Homo sapiens: one gene and its partner. The protein of the gene in region 2 interacts with the protein of the main gene of each other region in a pairwise test. Each region holds a gene or a part of one and is shown on either strand. Other genes may lie near its edges.

The links. Proteins that work in one complex are often made in the same cells at the same time.
Region 1: the proteins of NMNAT1 (region 2) and NEK3 interact in a two-hybrid assay, tested with the Homo sapiens proteins (one large-scale study listed by BioGRID and IntAct).

What each region holds. Positions count from the first base shown.
Region 1 is NC_000013.11:52,146,024-52,149,678, forward strand, and holds part of NEK3 (serine/threonine-protein kinase Nek3), read right to left. Parts: intron 2,447-3,655; coding exon 2,392-2,446; intron 1-2,391.
Region 2 is NC_000001.11:9,970,856-9,974,510, forward strand, and holds part of NMNAT1 (nicotinamide/nicotinic acid mononucleotide adenylyltransferase 1), read left to right. Parts: intron 1-1,162; 5' UTR 1,163-1,218; coding exon 1,219-1,333; intron 1,334-3,655.

The DNA of each region.
Region 1 (3,655 bases), on a different chromosome or scaffold from region 2:
TGTTTTTATTTATGGTATCTTTTGCTATGCAAAATTTAAAATTTAGTATAGTCAAATTTATTCATCATTTTTCCTTAATAATTTCTGCTTGTCGAATCTTGCTTAAGAAATGATTCTACACCTCAAGGCTATGATAGATGTTAATTACAGTGTGGGGTATATAGAAGCTTTTTGTATTATCTTTGTAATTTTTCTGTAAATCTAAAACTGTTTTAAAATTTAAAAGAAGTTTATTTTTTAAAAAGTGTATTGTCCTATGAATATAAAATGTAAGTGAATATATGAAAAAGAAAAATCAACACATAACAAAGGACAGATTGTGATAATGACAAATACTACTGAATCTGCTTTGCCTCTGGCTTTTTAACCATTACACCAACTATCTGTGTTTCCTAAAGGTTTGAGAACAACTTTTGTCTTCGAGCAGACAAGGGATGACAGATCTCATGCCAAATATTCAGGGCACTATAGTCCTTAATACTCATTCTTGCTGGAAAAAAGAAGAACGTATACATGTAAATTATGAAAAAGATACATCAGGAAGTAAAGAATTGTAAGATGTTGGAATTTTAAAAATAATTTTATTTGTAGACTATGGTGGTTCTCAACTTGGGCTGTACATTGTAATCACCTGTTTTAAAAACATTAATGCCCAGGACATTTTCAGAGATTTTAATTCAATCACTGTGCTGTGGGCCTAGGCATCAGCATTTTAAAGGTTCCCCAAGTTGTTCTAACTGTGTAGCTATCATTATAAACCACTTATATTCAAGGAAGATAACCTCTCATTAATACCAGGTGTCTTCAGTTTGAGCTACTTTCATCTGGTAGTGGTGAAGATTGTTTCTCAACCATTCACCCTCTCCTGAGCTCTATGTGCCCTCAAGTACATCTGTAAAAAAGCTAACCTTCAGCCTGTGCCCAAAGAACAGAATTTATTTCTATGCAAAGCTAAGAACTAATAGGAATTGGCCCTGCAGTTGTTGTTCTATATAATAAACAATGGCTGAACAAGCGGGACAAGTTATTTAACCTTTTTTTGTTCATATTTTTAAAAATATCTTGAAAAAACACATTATAGGGCAAAGTCTATGTTTTCATGATGTTTCAGTTAGAGAGGAAACTCATATAAGTGAAATCTAACTGCAAAAAGCTGAGGAAAAAAATGACGCGGCCACTCTTGCAAAGTTTGCTGTTTCCTCAAAAAGCTAAATACAATTACCATATGACCCAGCAGTTCCACTGCTAAATGTAAACCTCAAAATTTGGAATCAAGGACTCTAACAGATACTTGTACACCATTTGTTCATAACAGCATTATATACAATAGCCAAAAGACAGAAACGACCCAAGTGTCCCTCAACAGATGAATGGATAAACATGTCTATACACACAATGGAATACTATGCAGCCATAAAAAGGAATGGAATCCTGATAGATGCTACAACATGGATGAACCTTGAAAACACTGTGCTAGTGAAATAAACCAGACACAAAAGGGCAAAAGTTCTATAATTCCAGTTGTATGAAATACCTAGAATATGCAAATTCATGAGGCAGAAATTAGATTGGGACTGGGGAAAGGGAAGAAATGGGGAGCAACTATTTAATGGGTACAGAGTTTCTGGTTGGGGTGATGACAAAAGTTTTACAAAGAGATAGTAGTGGCCGGGCATAGTGGCTCATGCCTGTAATCCCAGCACTTTGGGAGGCCGAGGCGAGTGGATCACCTGAGGTCAGGAGTTCAAGACCAGCCTGCTCAACATGGGGGAAAATACAAAAAAATACAAAAAAAATGTCTCTAGTAAAAATACAAAAAAAATTTAGCTGGGCATGGTGGTATGCACCTGTAGTCCCAGCTACTTGGGAGGCTGAGGCAGGAGAATCACTTGAACCCAGGAGGCGGAGGTTGCAGTGAGCTGAGATTGCACCACTGCACTCCAGACTGGGCAACAGAGCAAGATTCCATCTCAAAAACGAAACAAAACAAAACAAAACAAAAAACCCCCAAAGAGATAATAGTGGTGGTTGCACAATATTTTGAATGTAATTAATGACAATGAATTGTATACTTAAAAATGGATAAAATGGCAAATTTTATATTTATTTTATCAAAATAAAAAATTAAGAATAGCAAAAAGAAAGAAAAGAGGAAAAGAGAAAGAAAGAGAGAGAAAGGTTATGTATTGCACAGCCAAACTGAATAATGGAAATTTCCTATTAGTATATGCTACAAAACTAACTCAGGGCAGATGACTGCACTGGAAACATATACAAACTTTTATAATGACTTCATCCTAGGGAAGCAAACTGCCAACTAGAATCTGTCACATTATTAGGGCTCAGCTAGATATGACAAGCTGCCTTTTCCATTTTGCACGCCATACTTACTGGATGCTTAAGGGTACAGAGTTCATACAGGATGCAACCCAAGGACCAGATGTCACTGAAAGCATAAAGAAGCAATGTAATCACAAGCAGGTTACGTATTTTCTAGTACAAAAAATAATTTCTTACCTTTAATAAGAATAGATATCACAAGTAATTCCTAGGTATTAAAACATATAATGTTGGTCTAACACCTAGATACTTCCTAAGAGTAGTGTTCACAATAAAACTCTCTGCTTTTCAATCCCCACCCCCTTCAAATTGGGGCAGTTGAGATATCACTTCAGTAGCATTTGGGAATTCAGTAGCAAGAGGGAATATTTGCGGACTCAGATGATCACAGCTGGAAGAAGGACTCTGGAAGGCATCCAGTGTAGTTTCTATTCCGACCACCCTGGACACAGCACCCAGCCTTTGATCACATCTCCTGCTGGCAGCTCTCTACTTCCCACACAGTCTGCTGGATGGCTCTAAGGGATAGGGTTCTTCCTTTTCTTTGAGATGGAGTCTTGCTCTGTTGCCCAGGCTGTAGTGCAGCCTCACAATCTCGGCTCACTGCAAGCTCTGCCTCCCGGATTCACACCATTCTCCTGCCTCAGCCTCCAGAGTAGCTGGGACTACAGGCGCCCGCCACCACGCCCAGCTAATTTTTTTTTTTGTATTTGTTTTAGTAGAGACAGGGTTTCACCGTGTTAGCCAGGATGGTCTCAATCTCCTGACCTCGTGATCCGCGCGCCTCAGCCTCCCAAAGTGCTGGGATTACAGGTGTGAGCCACCGCGCCCAGCCCACCTTTTCTTTTTTTTAAGGGATGGGGTCTCACTGTGTTGCCTAGGCTGGAGTGCAGTGGCTATTCACAGGCATGATGTCACTGTACTGCTGCCTTGAACTCCTGGGCTCAAGCAATCCTCCTGCCTCAGCCTCCCAGGTAGTTGGGACTACAAGCACACACCACCAGGCCCAGCTCCTCCAGACTTTTCTAAATGATATTCTTTTTTATTTTAATTAATGGTTTTTACCAACTATTTCCCCGTTTAGTTTTTTTAAATTTCAAATCTACAGAAAAGTTGCAATGTCCACATGCCCTTATCTAGGTCCCCCAATCATTCTCATTGGCCATGTTTGCGTGCTAATCTCCCTCCTCTATATCTATCTGAATCTCCTGAAAAAAGGTTGCCCGCCGGGCATGGTGGTTCACACCTGTAATCCCAGCACTTTGGGAGGCCGAGCCGGGCAGATCACAAGGTCAGGAGTTTGAGACCAGCCTGG
Region 2 (3,655 bases):
AGGCAAAAATGCTGTATTTGGTAGATGATAATATTGTTGTATTAATTAACTGTGGCCACAATAGTGCAATCACAAAACTTGAGTGACATATGATAATGAACACTAATTTTTTGTTTTTGAGACTAGGGTCAGCTTGTTGGCTTGACGATCTGAGCCAGGTTTGGTTGATCTCACTTGGGTTTGCTTATGTGTCTGAGCAGATGGACTGTAGTTGGCTGGTCGGGGATGGCTATGTTCCCCACATGTGGGGTGGTTGTCTATCAGTGGGAGCATCGGTGCTCTCCCACATGTTCTGGCATCCTCCACACTAACACTTGTGCCACATTCTTTTGCCCAAAGCAAGTCAAAAAATGTGGAGAAGTCACTTCCATCTCTTCATGGTAGAAGTTGCAGATTCACATTGAAAAGGAGGGATGGAGATGTGGAAACATTTTTAGAGTTAGCATAATGATTGAAGCCAATTTTTTTTTTCTTTTTGAGATGGAGTCTCTCTCTGTCGCCAGGCTGGAGTGCAGTGGCACAGTCTCGGCTCACTGCAACCTCCGCCTCCTGGGTTCAAGTGATTCTCCTGCCTCAGCCTCCCAAGTAGCTGGGATTACAGGTGCCTGTCACCACACCCAGCTAATTTTTGTATTTTTTGTAAAGACGAGGTTTTACCATGTTGGCCAGGATGGTCTTGATCTCTTGACCTCATGATCCACCCGCCCCAGCCTCCCAAAGTGCTGGGATTACATGTGTGAGCCACCACGCCCAGCCAAAGCCAAATACTTTTAATCCATCTATTGGGAATGAGAATGTGGAAGGACATCAAAAGACCTATAACTGGGCTGGGCGTGGTGACTCATGCTTGTAATCCCAGCACTTTGAGAGACTGAGGTGGAAGGGTTGCTTGAGACCAGTAGTCTGAGAGCAGCCTGGGCAACATAGCAAGACCCCCATCTCTACAAAAATTAGTCTTTAAAATAATTAGCCAGCCTATTGGTATGTGCCTGTGTTCCCAGCTACTTGAGAGGCTGAGGTGGGAGCATCACTTGAGCCCAGAAGTTTGAGGGTGCAGTCAGCTGTGGTTGCATCACTACACTCTAGCCAGGGTGGCAGAGCAAGACCTTATCTTAGGGAAAAAAAAATGCATAACTGAATTTATTTTCTTTTTCCTTTGTAGACAACAAGGGAGGTGTCACAGTTTTCCATTTAGATCAACAACTTCAAGTTCTTACCATGGAAAATTCCGAGAAGACTGAAGTGGTTCTCCTTGCTTGTGGTTCATTCAATCCCATCACCAACATGCACCTCAGGTTGTTTGAGCTGGCCAAGGACTACATGAATGGAACAGGTAGGAGCAGTAACCAAAAGTGGCTTAAGACTAGAGAACCAGCCGGGTGCAGTGGCTCACACCTGCAATCCCAGCATTTTGGGAGGCTGAGACGGGCAGATCACAAGGTCAAGAGATCGAGACCATCCTAGCCAACATGGTAAAACCCTGTCTCTACTAAAAAATACGAAAATTCACTGTGCCTGTAGTCCTAGCTACTCGGGAGGCTGAGGCAGTAGAATCGCTTGAACCCGGGAGGCGGAGGTTGCAGTGAGCTGAGATTGCTGCACTGCACTCCAGCCTGGAGACAGAGCAAGACACCATCTCAAAAAAAAAAAAAAATACTAGAGAACCGGCATGACTGGGTCTGTTTCAGAATACACATTTCATTGACTGGGCACAAACATGCTGTCCTGCTCCCTTGTACAGTGAATTCTTAGCCAAAAAAGAGGGTGAAGTATGAGGGAAGAATTGAGCATCTGGCTATGGCCTGTAGAATAGAAAATACAGCCAGGTACAGTGGCTCACACCTGTAATCCCAGTGCTTTGGGAGGCCGAGGTGGGAGGATCACTTGAGGCCAGGAGTTTGAGACCAACCTGGGAAACAGAGAGAGACCTCATCTCTACAAAAAAAATTGTAAACATTAGCCAGGTATGGTGGCATGTGCCTGTGGTCCCAGCTACTCAGGAGACTGAAGTAGGAGGATTGCTTGAGCCCGGGAGGTCTAGGCTACCGTGAGCCATGATTGCACCTTTGCCCACCAGCCTGGACATCAGAGCAAGACCCTGACCACCCCTCCCCAAAAAAAGGAATTTGATTCTGTCATGCCTGTGCTTAATCTTCTTTAGGAGTTTCCCATTACTTAAGGCAAAAAGCGAAAGCTTGTACTTTAGCATACATAAAACCTCTAGGATCAGGCACAGCTTTTTAAAAGTTTTCTTTTTTCTTTCTTTCTTTCTTTTTTTTGAGATGGACTTCACTCTTGTTGCCCAGGCTGGAGTGCAGTGGCGCGATCTCGGCTCACTGCAACCTCCACCTCCTGGGTTCAAGCAATTCTCCTGCCTCACCCTCCTGAGTAGCTGGGATTACAGGAATGTGCCACCACGCCCGGCTAATTTTTTATATTTTTAGTAGCGACGGGGTTTCTCCATGTTGGTCAGGCTGGTCTCAAACTCCCAACCTCAGGCTTCCCAAAGTGCTGGGATCACAGGCATGAGCTACCATACCCAGCTAAAAGTTTTCATAAACAATGCATGAGGCTGGGCGTGGTGGCTTACTCCTGGAATCCCAGCACTTTGGGAGGCCAAGGCAGGCAGATCACAAGGTCAGGAGATTGAGACCATCCTGGCTAACACGGTGAAACCCCATCTCTACTAAAAATACAAAAAAATTAGCCGGGCATGGTGGCGGGTGCCTGTAGTCCCAGCTACTTGGGAGGCTGAGGCAGGAGGATGGCGTGAACCTGGGAGGCGGAGCTTGCAGTGAGCCAAGATGTCGCCACTGCACTCCAGCCTGGGTGACAGAGCGAGACTCCATCTCAAAAAAAAAAAAAAAAAAAAAAAAATGCATGAATAGGCTGGGCGTGGTGGCACATACCTGTAATCCCAGCACTTCGAGAGGCAGAAGGGGCAGATTACCTGAGGTCAGGAGTTTGAGATCAGCCTGGCCAATGTGGCGAAACCTTGACTCTACAGAGTCTCGCTCTGTCGCCCAGGCTGGAGTGCAGTGGCACAGTCTTGGCTCACTGCAACCTCCACCTCCTGGATTCAAGCGATTCTTTTGCCTCAGCCTCCCCTGTAACTGGGATTACAGGCACACAGCACCATGCCCGGCCCATTTTTGTATTTTTAGTAGAAATGGGGTTTCACCATGTTGACCAGGCTGCTCTTGAACTCCTGTTCTCAAGTGATCCTCCCACGTCGGCCTCCCAAAGTGCTGGAATTACAGGCATGAGCCACCATAACATAGCATAACCATAACAGTTTCATGTGTATCCTTCCACTCTTCTTTGTATGAATTTATATGCAAACATTTGTGTGTATACACAGATTTTTTTTTTTTTTTGTGGAAATGGTTCTCACTCTGTCACCCTGGCTGGGCAGGCTGGAGTACAGTGGCATGATCACAGCTCACTGCAGCCTTTACCTCCCGGACTCAAGTGAGCTGCCTGCCTCAGGCTCCTGAGTAGCTGTGACTACAGGCATGCCACCACATCTGGCTAATTTTTTTTTTTTTTTGGAGACAGAGTCTTGCTCTGTCGCTCAGGCTGGAGTGCAGTGGCATGATCTCAGCTCACTGCAAACTCCGCCTCCCAGGCTCACACCATTCTCCTGCCTCAGCCT